Linked DNA regions of Homo sapiens. The protein of the gene in region 2 purifies or fractionates together with the protein of the main gene of each other region. This does not show direct contact. Each region holds a gene or a part of one and is shown on either strand. Other genes may lie near its edges. The genes, in order: PPRC1, EPB41L1, CHD9, SHQ1, VANGL2, USP34 and MEX3C.

Region 1 (3,500 bases), on a different chromosome or scaffold from region 2:
GAGGCACACAACACAGGATTGAAAACGAGCCCCTATCAACTTAGTACACAGGTCCCAGGAAGCCCCCAAATCATCTCACTTCTCCCTTTCCACTCCCCCTGCCCTCTGTACTAAGTGAACCAAGGTAGCAGCACAAAGCATGAAGGATTCAAACCAACCCAGGGCTCTGCCTCTGAAGAACCCTCCACAGCCAGGCACGGTGGCACACACCTGTGCCTATAAATCCCAGCTACTTGGAAGGCTGAGGTGGGAGGACCACTTGAGCCCAGGAGTTCAAGTCCAGCCTGGGCAACACAGTGAGACCTCATCTCTTAAAAACAAAAACAGGCCAAGGGCGGTGGCTTACACCTGTAATCCCAGCACTTTGGGAGGCTGAGGCAGGCGGATCACGAGGTCAGGAGATTGAGACCAACCTGGCCAACATGGTGAAACCTCATCTCTGCTAAAAATACAAAAAGCCGGGCGTGGGTGTGAGTGCCTGTAATCCCAGCTACTGGGGAGGCTGAGGCAGGAGAATCGCTTGAACCCGGGAGGCGGAGGTTGCGGTGAGCCGAGATCACGCCACTGCACTCCAGCCTGGGCGACAGAGGAAGACTCCATCTCAAAAAAAAAAAAAAAAAAAAAAAAAAAAAAAAAAAAGGCATGGTGCAGCGGCTCACGCCTATAATCCCAGCACTTTGGGAGGCTGAGGTAGGCGGATCACGAGATCAGGAGATTGAGACCAACCTGGCCAACATAGTGAAACCTCGTCTCTACTAAAAATAGAAAAATTAGCCAGACGTGGTGGCGGGCACCTGTAGTCCCAGCTACTTGGGAGGCTGAGGCAGGAGAATTGCTTGAACCTGGGAGGCAGTGAGCCGAGATTGCACCACTGCACTCCAGCCTGGAGACAGAGCAAGACTCCATCTCAAAATAAAAACAAAAAAACTCCTCCAAAGAAATCCAACAAAGGCCAGCCTCATCAGGGTGGCTTATCCTATTCTAGAGTCCCCCAGCCAACTTGGGGACTACATGGGGGAACTGTGTGTCACTCACCAATCTCACTGATGAAAGCCTGTACCACATCTTCAGAACCCTGAGTACGTGGGGTAGGCAGGAAGGACAGCTTCCTTAGACGGGCTGGGTGGACAGCAGGCAGCTTGGGGACAGTGCTCTGCCTTGGTGTGGGAACAGCCTTGGTAGCAGGCAAGGGGGGCTTCTCCCTGGGCCTGGTCTCTTGGGTCTCAGGCTTTAGCCTCTCTGATGCAGGCTCCTCAACAGTCACACCTTCAGCAGACACACATGCTAGAGCCTTCATCTGGGGACTTTGCACCAGGGCAGACACCTTGTGTTTCGGATGGGGAGATGCAGGCACTGGCTTGACCTCCACCTTGGTAGGCTCTGTCTGAGGAGCTCCATGGCCAGGTAGCCCAAGACTGAGGGGAGGAGCCATCGACAAGGGAAGTACATTTTCAGGAGGGCCAGCTGGAGTGCCCCTAGACTCCATTTTAGGTTGGGGAACAGCTCTCCCAATGGAGGCTGGAGGCAAAGGAGGTGGGGGAACAGTAGACCAGAATGGAGCATGTTGAGGCCCTGGGCCCCATCCCAAGGGCCCATAGGTACATGTGGAACTGTAAGGTGAGACTGGGGCAGGAGGGGGTGCCCAAGGCACACTGCAAGTGGGAGGCACGGCATAGGCACCAGGAGTACCAGACACTAGGGGCACCGTTGGTGGGGGGGGCAGGCAAGGATAGCCAGAAGGGGACACATGAGGATAACAAGGCCAGGATGGCAAGGGGGCATAGTGAGTAAACGGATCAGGTAGTACTGGCCCCATAGACAATGGAAGACTAGGAGGCTGCAAGGGAGGTGGGGGCAGACTGGGGGGCATGCCAAGCCCACCTGCAGGGAAAGGCAGGGCAGCAGACATCGAGGGAGGTGTGGGCACAGCAGGGGACACAGACTGCACAGGAGGGGAAGGTCTCGCCAACAGTGGCATCTCCTGGGATGGCACCTGCTCAGTGGGAGATGAGGCCACAGGTTTGCTTACAGGTGGCTCAGGACTAGGAGAAGCAGGGCTGGGACCTACAGGCACAAGGCAAATCTCAAGGGGTGTTTCAGGGCTTCTCTGCAGAGCTGTCTTCTTGGCTGGGGCTGGTGGGATGACAAGACAAGGGATGTCTGCCAGCCCTGTGGGAGTCTCTGGAAGGCTAGGCCACTTCCCAGTTGGGGGCTGTGGACTTCTCTCTTCTGTTTCTGCTTGGCGTTGCTGCCTTCGTCGCCGGTACTCAGATAAGCTGAGAGGCCGAGGTCTGGCTTCATGGGTTGTAGCACTGGTACCACTTTCAATTTTCAGAGAATCCACAACCTCTTTGACTTCAGGGATGATGGTCTTTGGTGGGTCCAAGGACTCTGACTCCACGAGGAGCTGGGGTGCTGAACCCCCCAGGGCTGATGACACTGCACCACGTCTGGGATCAGTTGGTCTGGACTTAACTAGCACTGGGTCAACTGGAGTCAGGTCATTAGGAACAGGGTCAACCAGTGCTAGATCAACTGGTGCTGGGCCAGACGGGACAGCATCAACTGGTGGCAAGTTATCTGAGATGGGAACCACTGCAGGGTCAACTGCTGCTGAGTCAGCCAGGACTGGGTTGATCAGCACTGGCTCAGCCGGGAGAGGCTCAACCAGTTCTGAGCTGGTTGAAGCAAGGTCAACCAACCCAGGGTCAACAGGTACAGGGCCAGCTAGAACAGGGCCAACTGCAGTGGGATCAGCTTCAACAGAGTCAACTGGCATGGGGCTGGCTTGGGCAGAGTCGACCAATGAGAGATGGGTTGGTATAGGATTGGTTTGGATAGTGTCAGCCAGCTTTGGGTAGAGGTCTAGAGGGCCTTCTTTAGCAGGACTACTTTGTCCAGCACTTCTCTCCAAGTTCTTAGGGCTAGAATTCTCCAAGGCAGCTGCCCAGGCCCGAGCCCAAGCCCGGGGCTTCCCCTTACCCTGGAGAGGCCCAGACTCTTTTTGAAGTTCTTCCTGAGGCTGTTTCTGCAAGTTGTCTACCTGAGAGGTCACTTCTGTACCTACAGTAGACTGCCCGCGAGAAGATGACCTCAGCCTCCTGGCATAGCCTTCCACACAGGCTGCTGGCTGCTCCTTGCTCTTCTTCTTCCTGCCCTTTCGAGCTCTCTGGGAACCTGGTGCTGCATTGGCAGGTGGGTTCTGAGGCTCCTTGGGCACCACCGGCTCCACGACCTCCCTGGGCTTCAATAAGCAGGCTGAGTCCAGCTTCTCCTCTGAGTTCAATGACAACCCCTCTTTCTCAGAGCAGAGGGTTACCTTGGGCACAGCAGCCTCTGTCTCTGACTCCAGTGTAGGCATAAGCAGCTGCAAGGCAGAACTAGTCTCTAGCGAGTCATCCAGGAGCACAGGCCGGGGTCCAGGAGAGACCTGTCGCACCACAACTGGGATCTCCAGGTCATCGCCAGCTGTGGCTGCCTGCCCCACAATCTCCAGCACT
Region 2 (3,500 bases):
CTATGAGCTCCTCAAAGGAAAGGACCAAACCTATTCACTCTAAATACTATACCCAGGACCCAACACAAGGCCTGGCACACATATAACACTCAGAAAATATAAGTAGAACTAACTTGCCTGGAGGCCTGCCCCAAGGTGTTCTGGGAGTATCCACGGTTTCCCTACCCAAGTCCCCACTTTCCACCTTTTTTTTTTTTTTTTTTTTTTTGAGACGGAGTCTTGCTCTGTCACCAGGCTAGAGTACAGTGGCGGTGCAATCTTGGCTCACTGCAACCTTCATCTCCCGGGTTCAAGTGATTCTCCTGCCTGAGCTCCCGAGTAGCTGGGACTACAGGCGCCTGCCACCATGCCTGGCTAATCTTTGTATTTTTAGTAGAGACGAGGTTTCACCATGTTGGCCAGGATGGTCTTGATCTCTGGACCTCGTGATCCACCTGCCTTGGCTTCCCGAAGTGTTGGGATTATAGGTGTGAGCCACTGTGCCTGGCCTTTTTATTTTTTATTTTTTTTATTTTTTTTGAGATGGAGTCTCGCTTTGTTGCCCAGGCTGGAATGCAATGGTGTGAGCTCACTGCAACCTCTGCCTCCCAGGTCCAAGCAATTCTCCTGTTTCAGCCTCCCGAGTAGCTGAGATTACAGGTGCATGCCACCACGCCCGGCTAATTTTTGTATTTTTAGTAGAGATGGGGTTTCATCATATTGGTCAGGCTGGTCTCGAACTCCTGACCTCAGGTGATCTGCCCGCCTTGGCCTCCCAAAGTGCTGGGATTACAGGCATGAGTCACCATGCCCAGCCCCCACTTCCCACCTTTAAGCCACTCTCTACAAACCTAAAAACAATAATGATGGGTACAATTTCTTAAGGTGCTACTATGTGCCACAGAATATTTTCTAGGCATGATCTCATTTAGTTTTCCCTAGAACACAGCAAAGTAGGTACTATGTATTTTGTAGAAGAGGAAATAGGCTCAGGGAGTTAAATAAGTTGCTTAAGGTCACCCATCCATTCATTCAGATATTTATGAACCACTTCCAGTGTCCAGAGAACAGCCCACGGTGACTGTCAAGCCGAGATTTGAACTCAGATCTGCATAATTCTGAATCTCCCCAGTGACCCATGTGACTTCCGAACATCACCTACAAACTCTAGTGTGTACATCCTGGGGAGAGACTTGGGCCCTGAAGGGTGCTGATTTAGTAGGTCTGGGGCAAAACCTGGGAATTTTCGTGCTTGCTTAACAATCTCACAGGCGACTCTGATGAAACGTGGTTTGTGCACCACATTTTAAGCCCTATCTGCTTGCTACAGGACTATATAGGGCCAGTTTTCATTGATGTTAAGGGCACCCATCAATCCAATAGAAATGGGGACAGTGGAGAGTGCCATGTGGTTAGATTGTCAATCAGCCCAGAACCTAGTAGAACCAAAAGAATGACCAAGAACGATGCCCTGGCCTCCCAGCAGATAAGGCATCATCAGCTCCACACTGCAGTCATAAGACACTATTCTCCTAGTATGATGATGACCAGTGTAAGGGACACCAGCCTGCAGCAGAGGGATGCAGGGGAGGAGGGTGAATCAGACCTGCACTGCCAGGCCCAAGGTTAGACCACAGGTTAGACTGGTGGATTGCTAAGCTTCTTGGGTAGGTGGCCCAAACCATATGGCTAAACCTGGGACCCCAAAAGACCACGACTCAGGGAAGTTGTGGGGAATCCAGAGAGTGGTAGTATCACATCTCAAGTGGGAGTGAGCTCTAGGTTGGGACTAAGCCACCAAGAGCTGCCCAGGGACAGCACTGGTCTTGAGGGGCCAGCCTGGTGCAGATGAACTTGGGATGCATCTACCATTTTCCTGCTCATTCTGCAGAACCCAGCATGCCCACTCCCCCAGTTCCCTCTGAAGACCATTCCCCGCCCAGCCCTCCAATTTGGGCCATACCTCCATCAAGGCTGCGGGACATGGTGTACCGTTTGCTGGAAGAACGCTCAAAGAAGGGTGCAGGCCGGTCAATGAGGGCGCTGGCCTGGCGAGTCTGTGCCTGGGTCCTCCCACTGTACCGGAACTTGGAGCCCATCACCAGGAAGCCCTTGGGTGGGGGCTCAGGGGACACCAGCCTGCAGCAGAGGGATGCAGGGGAGGAGGAGGAATCAGACCTGCACTGCCAGGCCCAAGGTTAGACCACAGCTGGCCTTTCATCCCACTACTCCACCAACTACAACAATTCAAAGTGGTCCAGGAAGGGAGGGACTTGGGGAAAGGGTGGAGGACTTTCCTAGAGTTCTCACTAACTCCTCCCCCTGCTCCCCTCCATACACATGGCCTCTGCCCCATCCCCATTACCCCATCCAAGGTCAGGCTCACCGGAAGAATGTATGATGCTCGATGCAGACCTTCCACAGTCTCTTGGCTGACCGGTGGTTTGGGAGCTTAAAGCCAATTGTGCTCTCAAATTGCTCATACTGGAAAACCAAAAGGGCAGGTTAGAGGCAGGGCCTGAGCTCACTCTCGCCACTAGCCCATTCTTTGTGTTTTTTATTTTATTTGTTTAATGTTTTTTTGAGACACAGGGTCTCGATCATTTGCCCAGGGTGGAGTACAGTGGCGCAATCATAGCTCACTGTAACCTTGAATTCCTGGGCTCAAGAGATCCTCCTGCCTCAGCCTCCCAAGTAGCCAGGACTACAGTCAGACGACACCACACCAGCTAATTTTTTGTAGAGAATGAGTCTCACTATGTTGCCTAGGCTGGTCTCCAACTCCTGGGCTCAAGCAGTCCTCCCACCTCAGCCTCCCAAAATGCTGGGATTACAGACGTGAGTCATTCTTTCTGAACTCTTCTCAGGCATCTGCGACTTTGGCCTGTTCATTCACTGAATCAATAAGGGTGATTGAGCCCTTACTCTGTGACGGGTCCAGTGCTAAACACTAGAGATACATGGAGACCAAGGCAGAAGATTCTAGTAGGGGAAGGGGACCTCCAATAACAAATAAGCAAACAAGATAATTGCAGACACTGATCAGGGCTACAAGGGGAATGAAGGGAGATGTGTGGTGCAGCAGAACTGGGAAGGCATAGGGGCTCCTGTCATCTAAGGAAGAGCAGGGGATCCCCTCTAGACCTAGATCTAGGTGATCTTGAGCTGACATTTGAAGAATGGGAAGGAACCAGCTATGTGAGAAGCGAGAGGGGGAGATACTTTCAGGTAAAGGAAACATCAAATGCGAAGCACTCAGGCAGGAAAGAGCTCGACTTATTCAAAGATCTCAAGGCCGAAGAGGCTAAAGCACCTTGGGCATGGGGCAGTGTGGCAAGGGATAGGTGGGAGAGGTAGGTGGCCATGGAAGGAGTTTGAAGTTTAGCTCAAGAGCTAAAGAGAGTTCCTGAAAGGTGTAAGCAAGGGTGTGGATGGGAAGGGGGAGTGGGCTTGCCATGATCTGATTTAAGGGACTTTTTAAGATCTCTCCAGCAGCTATGAGGAAAATGACCTGGAGAGCA
Region 3 (3,500 bases), on a different chromosome or scaffold from region 2:
CCTATGTTTCCACATAGTAAGAATATCTACCATTGAAGCAATATAGAAAAATACTAAAAAATGACCTATCCCAATAAGAAATTATTTCTTTACCTTTGGCCAATACGAGGCTGCCAGCATATATCCACCTTGTAAGATATAAGCAGACTCTGGTGTCCCATTGTTCATCTGAAAACTATCCTGAGTCTCATCCTGGGTAGTGCTCAGTGACGCGACGCTTTCTTCATCATAGGCTTTCATGTGAGTAGTACTTTCTGCTAAAAACAATTATAATCATTTTTTAAAAAGACTACATAAAATAGTTTTATATATAAGGATTTTACATAATTATTCAGAAACACCTGAAAATGAAAATGTTAGAAGTAAAAACAAATGATAAAAAAAGAGAAAAAATCACCTAGAATATAAAAAAAGCACCTATCATTATTATTAAGAGACAGGGTCTTGCTGTGTTGCACAGCCTGGACAGAACTCCTGGGCTCAAGCAATACTCCTGCCTCAGCTTCTCAAGTAGCTCAGATTACAGGTGTGCACTACGCCTGACTTCATTACTCACTATTTTTAAAATGATTCCTGATTGGTAGACTTCATCTGGATTGGCAGAACTATAAATACCTGATGAGGATACCATAATTCTCTTGATTAGGTGACTCTTGTAACTCTTAGAATTGGGCATGTTTCTTGCGGCAACCCCGAAAGTTATGCCTATGGAGTTGTTACAAGAGACCCCAGCTCCTGCTCATGTTTAATTGGACTCATTTTCTTGCCCCTGAACTGGTGGACTGCTGCAAGGGTTCCTGCAGAAGGGGACCACCAAACACTGTTCTGCTGACAAGCATTTGTCATGGCTGACAAATAAATGGCTTATGATATTCTCATTAGCTTAAGACTCTTGGTGACTGCTATATAATATTATCTTTTACTTGTTCACTAATCAACTTGTTCCTGGGAAAAATATTCAATTTAAGACAATCACAAATAAACTACTGTGTAAAATTTCTAATTCAATTGCCTGATTAATCTACTGTGTAATGCCTTGAATATTAAACAGGGAATTTGTATCAGTAACTAGTTTTCTTCCCAATAGTGCTTTCCTAAGAACATTTGTATATATAAAACTTAAGCAAACAGGCCAGGTGTGGTGGCTTATGCCTGTAATCCCAGCACTTTGGGAGGCTAAGGCGGGCGGATCACCTAAGGTCAGGAGTTCGAGACCAGCCTGGCCAACATGGTGAAACCCTGTCTCTACAAAAATACAAAAATTAGCTGGACATGGTGGTGGGTGCCTGTAATCCTAGCTACTCAGGAGGCTGAGGCAGGAGAATCGCTTGAACCTGGGAGACAGAGGTTGCAGTGAGCTGAGATCGTGCCATTGCACTCCAGCCTGGGCGACAGAGCGAGACTCCGTTTCAAAAAAACACTGTAAGCAAACAATTTTAAACATCCTTAAGTTACCTGAAACGAGTTCTTTTCATTTTCACTTGAAAAGTTATATTAGGCCAGGCCTGGTGGCTCATGCCTGTAATCTCAGCACTTTGGGAGGCTGAGGCGGGTAGATCACCTGAGGTCGGGAGTTTGAGACCAGCCTGACCAACATGGAGAAACCCCGTCTCTACTAAAAATACAAAATTAGCCAGGCATGGTGGCACATGCCTGTAATCCCAGCTACTTGGGAGGCTGAGGCAGGAGAGTCGCTTGAACCCAGGAGGTGGAGGTTGAAGTGAGCTGAGATTGCGCCATTGCACTCCAGCCTGGGCAACAAGAGCAAAACTCCATCTCAAAAAAAAAAAAAAAAAAGAAAAGAAAAGAAAAGAAAAGAAAAGAAAAGTTATGTTAAAAAAGTAGAATTATTTTATGCATAGTACCTCGTTTTTGGGCTTCTTCTTCATCACTGTCACTTTCTTCTGATGAAGATGAAGAGGAGGAGGAGGAGGAAGAGGTGGAGGAAGAGGATGAAGAAGATGCTGAAGAACAAGATGAAGATGAAGAAGAACTAGAGCCTGATCGAGAGTGGGAGCAAGAAGAGGATGATGAGGAAGAAGATGATCTGGAAGAACAAGATGATCTCTCAGAATCTGAGTCAGAATCAGAACTAGATTCTGATCCCCTTTTGTGGACTCTTGGTTTCTTAGAAGCTGGGTTTGGAGTTAGGGGTTCTGTTCTGGCTGCAACCATGCGTCTGTCTGTTTCACATTTTCCACCAGATTTCTGGTCTCCAGTAGCCTGTGGTAAAACACCATTCTTTGGACTTACAGGCTCAGATTTTATTAGTGTCCTGGTTTCCACAGAAGACATAGATTCTTCTTCAGAAGACTGAGGCTCCTCTTTAAGGTTTTCACTTTTAACTTTCATCTCCTCTAGAATAATACCTTTAGCATCTAGGAGCCTAGGTAGAGAGGTAAGAGGAGAAGCAGAAAGTGCTACTTGATATTGCTGTAGAAGTGGGGTAGAAGTCCTTGAATGAGCCATCTTACTTTGACTGTAGTTCCTCTGAGCTGCCATAAATGAGAGTTCAGGATCACGAAGAATGTGATAGTCTGTTCGGCTCACCCCGTGTTTGGCAGCACCAATAAGCAAATCCCTATCATGAGGGCCACATTCCCACCAGACTGGTAAATCTGGATTTGGATGGCAAAGCTTCAAGCGTTCAAACAACTGTGGATGTCGAAGGGCCTGTTCCCGTACTTTCCTTAGAAGTTCAATGCGATACAAAGTCCTAGAAGCACGTTCTTCTGTGATGGGCTGGATAAAAATATTTGGATCCACCAATTCTACATATTGAAACAAGGACAAAAATATTAATCTCAAAAATCCTTTATTTATAAATAAATCATTATAAATACATCTTTATATATTTATAACAATACCATTTCTAAAATGTGCCTCCATGCAATATCACTGTATAGTTTCCAGAATTTCTTTTCAGTGAGGAGAAATTCAGTGAGGATTTTGAAATTTTGAAATTTCAGTAAAAGCTTTAAAAAGGAGAAAGTTTTAAAAGTAAGTACTAAAAATCATGTAACATAAAATACTGGATGTTAATGTAAAACATAAGATTATTTTGGAAGTACATTAATAGAACTGGGAATTTTAAGAAATTCCCTATGAGCGATGCATTTAATAACATTTGTCTTAATAACACAAACACTTGCTCAAACTCACTTATAAATTAGAAGTGTTCAGGGTTGTCCAATCTTTTGGCTTCCCTGGGCTGCATTGTAAGAGGAATTGTATTGGGCCACATATAAAATACACTAACACTAACGATAGCTGATGAGCTTAAAAAAATTGCAAAAAAAAAAAAAAAACTCATAATATTTTAAGAAAGTTTACGAATTTGTGATGGGCCGCATTCAAAGCTGTCCTGGGCCACAGGTTGGACAAGCTTGTGTTAAGTGATACTCCATAAACAAATGTAAGCTGGCATATCTCAAACTGCAAAAGGTAAGAGGACATTGGAGTGAACTCACAGGGGCAACAAGGGCTTTCTCAAATTTCTA
Region 4 (3,500 bases), on a different chromosome or scaffold from region 2:
TGAAATATTCTGTAGTTTCTGAAGCATTCCTACATTGGTTTTGAAAGCTCATTCCATTTAAGATCAATCCTTCTTTGGAGCCAGGGTTATTCATTACTTTCAACTATGGAACACTATACTGACCTTTATAATAAAAAGTGTGAACACTGACTGCATTTTGAATTATAAGTAGGCATGAATTCATTCTTGGAAAACACTAAATGCCAAACCAGAGCTACCTTTATTTAAATTATGGGGTGTTCAAACAAATGAGCCTCTTCAGCGGCAATAATGGCATCCCCGTGCCATCCACCTGTACAAAGACAGGTGACGATTCTCATCCAGAACATGTCATCTCTACAGCTTCTGGCACAAATTCTAGACAACCCAGCCCTCAGTTTTAGCACTAACTAGCCACAACCCAAATTAGTCACAGAACACACTGTACATGGTACATAGAGGGTTCAGGTTCATTTTTAGCAGAGGCCTCCAGTGTGTTACTTCAAGTTTTATGTTACTATCATAACACAGCTGATAAAACTATTTCTTGTCAGAGTGATAATGAATAAAAATTAAGTCTCAATTTCAATTCTGACCTACTAAAACTGGGTAATTGATTCCTGTGTAAGTCAAGGCAATCGAATTTATTTTTGGTTATGCAATCATAGTACTGATTACTTTTCCAATGAAAGTCAAAAGAACTAGATTACTTCCCAGAATAAAAAGTAACAAGCAATAGTCTGTATATGTGAGTGAGAGTGAGAGTGTGTGAGTGTGTGTGCAAACAGGCATGTGGAGGTTTTGCCAATTCTCCATCTGGAAGCCATGATATAACAGGATAATCGCAAACTGCATTCTCACTGGTTTAAGTCCATGAATAATGCCCAGATAATCTAGCATGACTTAAAAAAGAAATGAATTGTGACGTGTAACTGAGGCTCACACAGTCATTTATAGTAGATTGATTTTCCAAGGTACTTTTAGCAATTCAAAAAATATCTTAGATGGAAGGCAAGAAGAAATAACACATGAAAAAACAAAGCAGTTTGTTTCCCACTGTTAAGTTAAAGAAGATAGATTTCTCAATGATAGCTCTTTCATCCTATAATCAACAATCCTTCAAAATAAAATACAGCTAGTCTAAACCAACTGGATGAATAAAAAGGCATCTTTCATCTAACCATGATTCATTTTTACAATTACTGTCTACTTTAAAATAATCTATTTCAAACATGATTTTCTTCCCCCATCCCCACCACCAGGGCAAGAAGACTACAGGTTACACAGAAAGCGAAGTACACTTCCAGGTGAGACAAAACATTTGAGATGTGATTCTCTTCTTTAGGCCAGTGAAGTCACCTGGAGGTAGAAGGAAGAACTTCCTTTCTTTCCCCTTCTTATTCTGAAGTCTGAAAACCAAGCTCCCAGAAACACTTTTATCTAAGGGCAAAGGAATGATGAGTCTCCCCAGGGGGAGAATATAAGAAATGACCATAAAGTACTAAAAGTGACTTTTAAATAAATGTGCCAGAACTAATACATACAAATGGATGTTGCCCCCTTCAAAGTCATTATCTTGGAAATTATATACTTATTCTAATGATGATACTATGGGCACTTTGGAATTTGTTTCAGAGCCCAGAATTTTCCACATCCTTAAAGCTAACGAGTGTTTGTCTTTTCAGGTTGAATTTAGCAAGTCAAAAGTGCTCAGAGTAGCTGAGCTTTTTGTTGGAAAATCTTTCTTGACATGCCGAATCTAGGTTACATGTCCCCTCCTAAACGATCCCTGGACTTCTCCCAGCAGAGTACTTTTCACTCTCTTTGGAATTGCTAACTTACCCATCATCTGTCTGACAAAACTGTAAACTTCAACAGAGCAGGGAACTTTTCTGCCTTCTTTATTATTAGACCCACAGTCCCACCATAGAGCCTAGAAGATTATAGGCAGCCAAGAAATACTGAATGATGCAGCTATTATAATGTAAAACGGTTTGCAATACTATGTGTGCCTTCTCTGTTTACCTTCCTTACTCCTCTCGGAAAAGAGTCTTTATTATGCCTCTATGCAATTACTTATCTACATATGTCTTATACACAGGAATTCTATACTTTAAAAGTGGTTGGATTCATTTTTCATTACTTATTTATATACAGTAAAAAAGCAAAAATCATTATTATATCTTCACAGACTAAAAACTTACAACTTTTTCCCTCCCAAATTTGCAAGTACAGTAATATCTTACCCAGTTGCAATATCTTTATAGTGTCCCTGTAGGCCTTCATCACCAGCTTGAAATGGCGATAGAGTGGGTAACACAACACCCTTCTTCCAAAAGACACCATGATATCATGAACGTTAGTCCAAGTCTGTGAAGTGTCATTTTAATAAGCAGTCATTTCCACAAAATGTTACACAAACAAAAGTACACAATGAAATAGGAAGCTTTTCTCATTTAAAAGCTGCAAGTTCGGATCATTGTGAAGCCAAGTAGAAGAGAAACATAAAACCATGAAATAAGATTCTTTTTGTATACTTTACAATAAAACAGAATCTTAGTTTTTGTAATTTCTCACACTATCAATACATCACAAATGTCACAAGAAAGCTTTTAAATAAAGTCCTAAAGATTACAAATAAGAATCTAAAACACATGGCATTAACAAAATACAGATGCACATAAAGGACATTTTAATATAATTTACATTTCATGTTTTTGTCAGCTAAGGCTATTCAAGATGGCACAGATCAAAAATGTAGAACTCACCGGGAGTGGTGGCTCATGCCTGTAAAGCACTTTGGGACTCCAGGCGGGTGGATCACCTGAGGTCAGGAGTTCGAGACCTCCCTGGCCAACATGGCAAAACCCCGTCTCTACTAAAAATACAAAAATTAGCCAGGTGTGGTGACAGGCACCTGTAATCCCAGCTACTCAAGAGGGTGAAGCAGAGAATAGCTCGATCCTGGGAGGCAGAGGCTGCAGTGAGTCAAGATGGCGCTACTGCACTCCAGCCTGGACAATAGAGTGAGACTCCATCTCAAAAAAAAAAAAAAAAAAGGCCGGGTGCGGTGGCTCATGCCTGTGATCTCAGCACTTTGGGAGGCCGACGGGCGGACCACAAGGCCAGGAGATCGAGACCACCCTGGCTAACACGATGAAACCCCGTCTCTACTAAAACTACAAAATTAGCCGGGCGTGGTGGCAGGTGCCTGTAGTCCCAGCTACTCGGGAAGCTGAGGCAGGAGAATGGCGTGAACCCAGGAGGCGGAGCTTGCAGTGAGCCAAGATCGCGCCACTGCACTCCAGCCTAGGTGACAGAGCGAGACACCATCTCAAAAAAAAAAAAAAAAAAAAATACATAGAACTCTTTAGTAAAGTATGTTCAGTTTCCTCTCCTCTTTTTCTTTTTTTTTTTTTTTTTGCACTGGACATGGGTAATACAAGACATTTACTTGAGTAATTTGCTTTTGCTTATCAAACTGATTTCTAGGAAAAAAGGTGTTGTATCTTGAACGGTAT
Region 5 (2,304 bases), on a different chromosome or scaffold from region 2:
TTACAGTGACAACAGAGCACTGAACTCTCTACATATTTAGAACTAATATATATACTACAGAAACTTGTCTCAATGAATTGTGATGGGCTGTCACCACTGACTGAAATCTCAACTATCCCCTGAAATTCCTATGGCACTTTATGTTTTAGAAATACGTTTTAGAAACCCACTCCTGCCCTAGAGGCCATACAGACACAAGCTTGCTCAGGAGGGTGGACCCAGGAAGTAATCTTTCTTTCTCTATCCTGACAACTACACCAGGAAGTGGTTAAGCCCTCACATTGTTGTTTCTCTCTCTTTAGAATCAGGATTCAGAATAAGCAATTTCCTTTTTCATTTTCCCATTTCTCTCCAACACACCCTGAAGGCCTGCAGAGCAATGATGAGCTCACACTGCCCCCTCCTGCCCATTCCCTCCCTAACAAGGAATATATTCATTATTCCCTGGCCCTCATTTGCTCCCATTCCTGTAAAGAAAGAAAAGCAACAGAATGCCCCCACAAAAGTCAAATGTCTTTATTTTATATAAAAAAAATTTGTACAGTTTTAGTTCCTATGTTTAAGAAAAAAATCCTAAAATTGCCGTAATGTTTAGATCCACTGCAAACTGTAGAAACAAGCTTTTTATATATTAAAAAAAATTTACATTTTACAATTTTCTACATGCATGCACAAGGTCTCAGCTCTGTAACCCCACCCCCCCAAAAAAAAGGAAAAAAAATCTAGATCCAACAGTGGAAAATTCTACATTTACAATCTCACTTGGAAGGGACTCAAAAAGCCCTCTTCCTTTTGCGCACGGAAGAACAAATCACAACAATCACACACCAGGACTGAATCCATCAGCAGATACTGCCCTGTGGGAAGGGCAGAGGAAAGAGAAGACAGACGGACTGACAGACACCACAGAGGAACAGGGGAGTTAGCCTGGGACCAATGGAGGAGAAGTACGAACCCTGGGAAAAAGACGTGTCAGATGAGAAAGTTCCGGAGAGTCCGATGTCTCATCGCAGGTGTTACATCATCAGGGTTTGCCATTGGAATACTGAGTGGAGATGGGAAAGAGAAAAGTTAAGGGCTGAAATGGGAGGGGAATGGGAAGAAAAAATGAGAGACAAGAGGGAAATAAGAAAAAACAAAGAGAGCACAAAGACCAGTTTAGGAGAAAGGACCAATGGGGACAGTGGCAGAGTGGCGAGGTAGGTGAAGGACTGAGGCACAGCGTCCTGTTGTGGAGGGAGGAAAGGCAAGCGTTCCGAGGTGGTGAAAAGGAAGGCCTGCTAGGCACGGTGGGGATGAACGAGGATGCCATGAGTCACACAAAAGACAGTGCTGGTGAGGCCCAGCCACAGCAGCCCTATGGTGTCAAGGGGGTAAGAGGTGGGCATACCCCCACAGCAGGAGAATGAGCAGATCCAGCGCATGATGGGACAGACACAGTGGGGAAACTGCTCAGAGGGACTGAGTCAGCTGCACACCCCACAGCAGTTCACAGCATGGAGACAACTTCCCACAGGGGAGAAGCAGAGGACAAACACATGGCCATATGTCTGACAATTCATCCTGACATTTTAAAAAACAATAGTAATAATAATAATAATAATAATAATAATAATGAAAAAAGACAAAGATACCACAGTTCTGAAGCAAAAGACCAAAATGCTACCATTCTCAGGCACAGCCCTTAGTGCTTAGAGAGTTGGAGGCAAAAAATTTTTTTTAGGAAAGGGGAATGAAAAAAAAATCACAGTGATTAAAAACATGGCAGGATCTTAAAATAAACACTCCCCAGCCCCTAACCTAGGGCAGCAACTAAGATCCCAAATCCTTTCCCTCTCCCCCACCCCAACCTGCTCCTCAGACCACACCACACTCCATCCTGTCCACAAAGGCAATGACCCCAGTCACCATCCAGGCCCTGTTTTCCAGGATAGTGAGGTATTTATGTGACTCAGAAGGGACTCTCTGACACAAAGTTTTTGAAGAGAAGAAAAGAGACAGACCCCCAGAACAGGACATATTTCATACAGGCCTATCTCATAACCCTGGCCCCAGCCAGAGGCCCTGCCTAAGTGAGCTCCACAACCCACCCCTTTGGGGACAAGGTAAGCATTGGCCAATGAGCTCCTCTCTAGCATGCGGTGGGTAAACAAGTGAACTTTTGCAGAAAGGACAGCAGGAGAAACCCCGATCACTAGGCTCCATCATTCCCAGGGCTGGTGCTACACAGAGGGGGAGCCTCCCAGGGGAGACACTGGGGATCTTATCCCAGGATGTGCTCTGCAAGGTAAGTACCAACCAGTC
Region 6 (3,500 bases), on a different chromosome or scaffold from region 2:
ATTTTGAAAGAAGGTAAGAGGGGCCGGGCAGGGTGGCTCACAACTGTAATCTCAGCATTTTGGGAGGCTGAGGCAGGTGGATGACTTGAGCTCAGGAGTTCAAGACCAGCCTGGCCAACAGGATGAAACCCTGTCTCTACTAAAAATGCAAAAGAATTAGCCAGGCATGGTGGCAGGCCCCTGTAATCCCAGCTACTCGGGAGTCTGAGGCAGGAGAATCACTTGAACCTGGGAGGCAGAGGTTGCAGTGAGCCGAGATGGCACCATTGCACTCCACCCTAGTGAACAAGAGCGAAATTCCGCCTCAAAAAAATAAAAAAAAAAACCCAAAACACTGAAATCTGAAATACAGAAAAAAAAACATACAATTCATTAAATAACAAAAATATGAATGGTTAAATTTACTAGTAATTGCTTAATACATTCTCTACCAAAATAACTTTTATTTTAAGAGATGAAGTCTTGCTATGTTGCCCAGGCTAGCCTTGAATTCCAGGGCTCAAGTGATCCTCCCACCTCAGCCTCCTGAGTAGCTGGGAATACTACAGGCACACATCACCATGCCCTGCTAAAATAACACTTTCTAAAGGATAATATTCAAGACAGGTGAAAGTGCCCTTACACAGGCACGACTACGACTAAAAGATCAATATATCCTTTCTGGCAAGCAAACAGTATGAAAATAATGAAAAATGTTTATATTTTTTGACACAGTAAACTCACGTCTAGAAATCTAAAAGAACCAGGGATGTAGATAAAAGATTTAAGTAGAAAGATGTACATTTGCGGCATTATTCATAATATGGGAGAACTGGAAACAGATATATTAAATTTTATATAAAATGAAATCTTATACAAAAACATGTTTTCAGCCAGACGCGGTGGCTCACACCTGTAGTCACAGCATTTTAGGGGGCCGAGGTGGGCAGATCATGAGGTCAGGAGTTCAAGACCAGCCTGGCCAACATGGTGAAACCTCATCTCTACTAAACGTAACAAAAATTAGTCAGGCATGGTGGCAGTTGCCTGTAATCACAGCTACCCAGGAGGTTGAGGCAGGAAAATCGCTTGAACCCGGGAGGCGGAGGTTGCAGTGAGCCAAGATCAGGCCATCGCACTCCAGCCTGGGGCAACAGAACAAGACTCCATCTCAGGGGGAAAAAAAAAAAAAAGAAAATCAGCCAGGCGTGGTGGCTCATGCCTGTAATCCCAGCAGTTTGGGAGGCCGAGGTGGGTGAATCACTTGAGGCTAGGAGTTTGAGAACAGCCTGGGCAAAACAGTGAAGCCCCATTCCTACAAAAAACACAAATATTAGCTGGGCATGGTGGTACGCACCTGTAATCCCAGCTACTTGGGAAGCTGAGGCAGGAGAATTGCTTGAACCCAGGAAGAGGAGGTTGAAGTGAGCCAAGATCATGCCACTGCACTCCAGCCTGGGCCACAGAGTAAGACTCCGTCTCCAAAAAAAAAAAAAAAATCAATTCAGGAGAACCGGACAAAGTAGCTCACACCCTGTAATCCCAGCACTCTGGGAGGCTGAGGCAAGCGGATCACTTGAGGCCAGGAGTTTGAGACCAGCCTGACCAACATGGCGAAACCCCATCTCTACTAAATATACAAAAATTAGCCCGGCATGATGGCACATGCCTATAATCCCAGCTACTTGGGAGGGTGAGGCACAAGAACTGCTTGAGCCCCCCAAGGCAGAGGGTGCAGTGAGCCGAGACTGTACCAATGCACTCCAGCCTGGGAGACAGAGGGAAACTGTTTCCCAAAAAAAAAAAAAAAAAGGCAGCCAGGTGTGCTGGTATACACACCTATAGTCCCTGCTACTCAGGAGGGTGAGACAGGAAAATCACTTGAGCCCAGGAGGTCAAGTTATAGTAAGCAATAATCACTTCATTGCACTCCAGCCTGGATGACAGAATAAGACTCCATCTCCAAAGGGGGGAAAAAAATTCCAACTTTAGATTAAATGTCTACTGAAAAAGTTATGTTACTAATTGATTTCGTACCTATATACTCATAGTATCTAAAAAGCTCTGGAAACATGTAGTTTTATTAAACGGTTCACTGCAGAATAACAGTATTAAGAAAGATTCTCAGCCGGGTACAGCATACCCCAACACTTTGGGAGGCTGAGGCAGGAGCATCACTTGAGCCCAGGAGCTTGAGGCTGCAGTGAGCTATAATTGGGCCACTGCACCCCAGCATGGGTGATACACTGTCTCTTAAAAAATAATCAAAAATCAAAAAATTTGAAATTTTATTCAATGAAAAAGATTCTTATTCAGCTATACTTATTACCACTTTTGAATTCCTACTACAATTATCACAGAAATTTGTCTGAATTTTTGAAGATACATAAAACACGGTCAGTAATTTTCACTTTGCCAACTGAACAGTGGTGATTCAGATAGATCATCATAAAATTTATACAATGTTAACTAGTAAGAACTTTTAGGCCAGGCAGGATGGCTCACACCCCTAAACCCAACACTTTGGGAGGCCAAGGGAGGCGGATTACCTGGGGTCAGGAATTCAAGACCATCCTGGCCAACATGGTGAAACCCCACATCGACTAAAATTACAAAAATTAGCCAGGCATGGTGGTGCATGCCTGTAATCCCAGCTACTCAGGAGGCTGAGGCAGGAGAATCGCTTGAACCCAGGAGGCGGAGGTTGCAATGAGCCGAGATCATGCCATTGCACACCAGCCTGGGCAACAGGAACAAAATTCCTTTTCAAAAAAAAAAAAAACTCTTAGCCTAATCTGGGATTAAGTCCTGTGGTTCCACCAAACAGTCACATGTGACCCTAAGCAAGTCACATAAATTCTCTAAACCTTAGTTCCCTCATCTGAAAAGGATGACAGAGTACCTCCCTCAAAGAACTGATTAAATCAGCAGCATGCAAAGCATGTAAAGTACTTAAGTACCCAACACAAACTATTCAATAAAGTAATCTGCTTTAAAAATAAAACACACTGAAAGGCCGAGGCAGGTGGATCACCTGACATCATTAGTTCAAGACCAGTGTGGCCAAACTGGTGAAAATTAGTCTCGACTAAAAATACAAACATTAGCTGGGCGTGGTGGCAGGCGCCTCTAATTCCAGCTACTCAGGAGGATGAGGCAGGAGAATCACTTGAAGCAAGGAGGTGGAAGTTGCAGTGAGCTGAGATCGTGCCATTGCACTGCAGCCTGGGCAACAGAGTGAGACTCCGTCTCAAAAACACCACCACCAACAAAATAAACACAACAGAATTATTCTGCAAATACAGATATTGGAGTAGCTGAGTTCCATCTCAAATTTGACTATGCAGGTTGACAGGTGATCTTGGCAAACTACTTATCCTTTCTGAAGTTCAACTTTTTCACCAAATGGTATTGGGATACAACACTTGCTCTTGCCTATCTCACATGAATTATCCATTTTGGACAACTTGGTAAACTATAACCCACCAAACGAATACACAGAGTAAAATCTACAACACATA
Region 7 (3,316 bases), on a different chromosome or scaffold from region 2:
TCTGCCCGGTCAAACCACCGTCCAAGTCAGGGTCCCTTATCGTGTGGTAGGATTAGTGGTTGGACCCAAAGGAGCAACTATTAAAAGAATTCAGCAGCAGACCCACACCTACATAGTAACTCCGAGCAGAGATAAGGAACCTGTCTTTGAAGTGACAGGGATGCCTGAAAATGTTGACCGAGCACGGGAAGAAATAGAAATGCATATTGCCATGCGTACAGGAAACTATATAGAGCTCAATGAAGAGAATGATTTCCATTACAATGGTACCGATGTAAGCTTTGAAGGTGGCACTCTTGGCTCTGCGTGGCTCTCCTCCAATCCTGTTCCTCCTAGCCGCGCAAGAATGATATCCAATTATCGAAATGATAGTTCCAGTTCTCTAGGAAGTGGCTCTACAGATTCCTACTTTGGAAGCAATAGGCTGGCTGACTTTAGTCCAACAAGCCCATTTAGCACAGGAAACTTCTGGTTTGGAGATACACTACCATCTGTAGGCTCAGAAGACCTAGCAGTTGACTCTCCTGCCTTTGACTCTTTACCAACATCTGCTCAAACTATCTGGACTCCATTTGAACCAGTTAACCCACTCTCTGGCTTTGGGAGTGATCCTTCTGGTAACATGAAGACTCAGCGCAGAGGAAGTCAGCCATCTACTCCTCGTCTGTCTCCTACATTTCCTGAGAGCATAGAACATCCACTTGCTCGGAGGGTTAGGAGCGACCCACCTAGTACAGGCAACCATGTTGGCCTTCCAATATATATCCCTGCTTTTTCTAATGGTACCAATAGTTACTCCTCTTCCAATGGTGGTTCCACCTCTAGCTCACCTCCAGAATCAAGACGAAAGCACGACTGTGTGATTTGCTTTGAGAATGAGGTTATTGCTGCCCTAGTTCCATGTGGCCACAACCTCTTCTGCATGGAATGTGCCAACAAGATCTGTGAAAAGAGAACGCCATCATGTCCAGTTTGCCAGACAGCTGTTACTCAGGCAATCCAAATTCACTCTTAACTATATATATATACATAAATACTATATCTCTATATGGACTCGTAAAGGCATGGGTATAATGGTACCCCCCAGTAAACTTCCTAATGATTTCTTATGACTGTTATCAGGCTTTATTGGGATTAGGCTAAAGTTGTTAGTAAACTTATAAAAGGCTGCTATGGTAACACTAAACCTAAGTGGTCTCTTGTCTATTAGTTTGGTTTGAATTATTAGTACTATCCTGTAGACCCAGAGACATAGTTTATATAAGAATTGCTAAAGCTGAAGTTCAACTTGGCTGAGTGAAGATAATCATAGGTTGTGTGAGCCTATGAAAAAGTGTATACGTCTAAGATTTCAAAACAATGGGTCCCAAAGCCTAACCACTTTAAGAGTTTATGGAGGGTACTTGGCATTACAGACGATTCATACACTTCCAGTGCTGCCTTCTTTACACTGCCAGTTTTGACAAAACAGGTTTGTTTTTTATTTTACAACAACATATGCCTAATTCTGCAGGATTGCAAGTAACTTTTTAATGCATTGTGATTACTTATTGGTAATGATAGGGCTGATGGCAGTTTACTAGATCACTGGTTATAATTTGGGACAAAAACTGCTACATCAACTTTCATCTCGCCCAGAGTGCTCAAGGCTGGTATGATCAGTGGATCAGGAATGCAATTGTGAATTCCTGCCCATTGCCTCTCTTGGTGAATGTGGAAATGGCCACCTGGGTTTTCCCATATCAGGAAGGGCTTTGGGATGGCACCTATATTGGCTGATAATTGAGGATGCAAACATTCCATTCATTAGTGTGATCGAGCTGTTAATTTTTAGACTATAGATCAAAATGTGAAACATTTTATGTTCAATCCATATTTGTCTTGCACATTATAAATATATTTTTATTTTTTAGTAATTTAGGGGAGGGAGGAGGGAGAAAGGGATAATGATGCCCTTGGCATAATTCACAAAAGCAGCTGTGACAACCTCCAATCAGTTTACTTCATTTCAAAACTATTTCCAATCACAAGGAAAGATTTATTTAAAATATACTCGTACATTTCACCTGTGGATGTCTATAACTTCATCCTCAGTATGTTCCCAAATCTGTGCTGGCATTGAAAGGACAAAACATTATACTAGTGGGTTTTTCTACTAATTATTTTTTGAAGCATTATTTTCCCAACACAAAAGAGCTTTTTTCTCGGTATAATGAAAATTGAAATCCTATGTGTATTCAATAGTAAATAGACAAATTTTATTTTTTATTTCCACTTGAAGAGTTACATTTCGTATAAAAGTTTACAAATAACGGTTTTTATTTTGATTTTTTCAGTATAAAAAAAGTTGCCTTGATGGCATATTATGATGTAATGCTAATTGCTTGTAGGATAGTAAATGGTCAGTATTGAAACCTAATCTCTAGCTGCCGTCTTGTAGATATGAACGAATGTTCACCAAGCATGTATTTTGTATTTTGTTGCATTGTACACTGCAACTAATAAGCCAAGGAATCGACATATATTAGGTGCGTGTACTGTTTCTAAAAACCACAAACTAAGAATGATAAATTATCAATATAGTTTAGTATTTGCTAATTTTACTACACTCTTTTGTTATGTATATGTAGGGAAGTCATAGGGATTATAAATTCAATTTGAGTAAAATTTAAAACCATATATTTTATGATAAAGGGCCTTTAACTTAAGATGGCCAAAGCACTGATATTATATATTTGCTGTAAAGAGAATTATAAGAGTTTTATTTTTCTGATATTAAAAGTTACTTAATAAAGACTTGTTTCCATTAACTTGAATGTATTCTCCTTGGTGTTTTTCATATAATCATCAGTTTATACTAGAAGATTAGTTAACAGAATCGAAAATTTTCTTTTATAGACTCCCTATTCCCCAACCAGCTATCTGTGCTCACTCTTGTAGTTATTTTGTGTGTGTGTGCTCTTGGTTTTGAATGTGTCGCTTATGTTCCTGTCCAAGTTTAGTTTTTTCTTTAAATGAGTGTTAAATTACAGTAAACTGGAAATTTGGCTGGTTGTAGATTTAGTTGCATATTTGTGTAGTTGACCACAAACCACTACTGATCTAATTGTAAATAGTTAATGACTTTTTTTATACATTATTACTTGAAATCCTGAATTCAACTTAAATTCTACTTGGTTTGCATCCTTTGTTTATGGATTTTTGTCTTTTTATCACCAAATCTGTAAAACAAGTTCTTTTCTAATACAAAAGCACCAGTTTACCTTTCAGTAAAAACTACCTTCTGAAAAATTGACAAAAATATTTCTCCATTTAT

The links.
Region 1: the proteins of EPB41L1 (region 2) and PPRC1 purify together in Homo sapiens (co-immunoprecipitation; one large-scale study listed by IntAct). This does not show direct contact.
Region 3: the proteins of EPB41L1 (region 2) and CHD9 purify together in Homo sapiens (co-immunoprecipitation; one large-scale study listed by IntAct). This does not show direct contact.
Region 4: the proteins of EPB41L1 (region 2) and SHQ1 purify together in Homo sapiens (co-immunoprecipitation; one large-scale study listed by IntAct). This does not show direct contact.
Region 5: the proteins of EPB41L1 (region 2) and VANGL2 purify together in Homo sapiens (co-immunoprecipitation; 2 studies listed by BioGRID and IntAct, with this or other methods). This does not show direct contact.
Region 6: the proteins of EPB41L1 (region 2) and USP34 purify together in Homo sapiens (co-immunoprecipitation; one large-scale study listed by IntAct). This does not show direct contact.
Region 7: the proteins of EPB41L1 (region 2) and MEX3C purify together in Homo sapiens (co-immunoprecipitation; one large-scale study listed by IntAct). This does not show direct contact.

The regions. Positions count from the first base shown.
Region 1 is NC_000010.11:102,139,540-102,143,039, reverse strand, and holds part of PPRC1 (peroxisome proliferator-activated receptor gamma coactivator-related protein 1), read right to left. Parts: coding exon 1,036-3,500; intron 1-1,035. UniProt on the Homo sapiens protein: Acts as a coactivator during transcriptional activation of nuclear genes related to mitochondrial biogenesis and cell growth. Involved in the transcription coactivation of CREB and NRF1 target genes.
Region 2 is NC_000020.11:36,189,240-36,192,739, reverse strand, and holds part of EPB41L1 (band 4.1-like protein 1), read right to left. Parts: intron 2,464-3,500; coding exon 2,366-2,463; intron 2,119-2,365; coding exon 1,943-2,118; intron 1-1,942. UniProt on the Homo sapiens protein: May function to confer stability and plasticity to neuronal membrane via multiple interactions, including the spectrin-actin-based cytoskeleton, integral membrane channels and membrane-associated guanylate kinases.
Region 3 is NC_000016.10:53,302,991-53,306,490, reverse strand, and holds part of CHD9 (chromodomain-helicase-DNA-binding protein 9), read right to left. Parts: intron 2,772-3,500; coding exon 1,866-2,771; intron 258-1,865; coding exon of another isoform or gene 255-257; coding exon 94-254; intron 1-93. UniProt on the Homo sapiens protein: Probable ATP-dependent chromatin-remodeling factor. Acts as a transcriptional coactivator for PPARA and possibly other nuclear receptors. Has DNA-dependent ATPase activity and binds to A/T-rich DNA.
Region 4 is NC_000003.12:72,810,446-72,813,945, forward strand, and holds part of SHQ1 (protein SHQ1 homolog), read right to left. Parts: exon of another isoform or gene 2,350-3,500; coding exon 2,226-2,349; intron 1-2,225. UniProt on the Homo sapiens protein: Required for the quantitative accumulation of H/ACA ribonucleoproteins (RNPs), including telomerase, probably through the stabilization of DKC1, from the time of its synthesis until its association with NOP10, NHP2, and NAF1 at the nascent H/ACA RNA.
Region 5 is NC_000001.11:160,426,867-160,429,170, reverse strand, and holds the end of VANGL2 (vang-like protein 2), read right to left. Parts: 3' UTR 501-2,304; downstream 1-500. UniProt on the Homo sapiens protein: Involved in the control of early morphogenesis and patterning of both axial midline structures and the development of neural plate. Plays a role in the regulation of planar cell polarity, particularly in the orientation of stereociliary bundles in the cochlea.
Region 6 is NC_000002.12:61,461,088-61,464,587, forward strand, and holds part of USP34 (ubiquitin carboxyl-terminal hydrolase 34), read right to left. Parts: intron 1-3,500. UniProt on the Homo sapiens protein: Ubiquitin hydrolase that can remove conjugated ubiquitin from AXIN1 and AXIN2, thereby acting as a regulator of Wnt signaling pathway.
Region 7 is NC_000018.10:51,174,050-51,177,365, reverse strand, and holds the end of MEX3C (RNA-binding E3 ubiquitin-protein ligase MEX3C), read left to right. Parts: coding exon 1-1,015; 3' UTR 1,016-2,816; downstream 2,817-3,316. UniProt on the Homo sapiens protein: E3 ubiquitin ligase responsible for the post-transcriptional regulation of common HLA-A allotypes. Binds to the 3' UTR of HLA-A2 mRNA, and regulates its levels by promoting mRNA decay.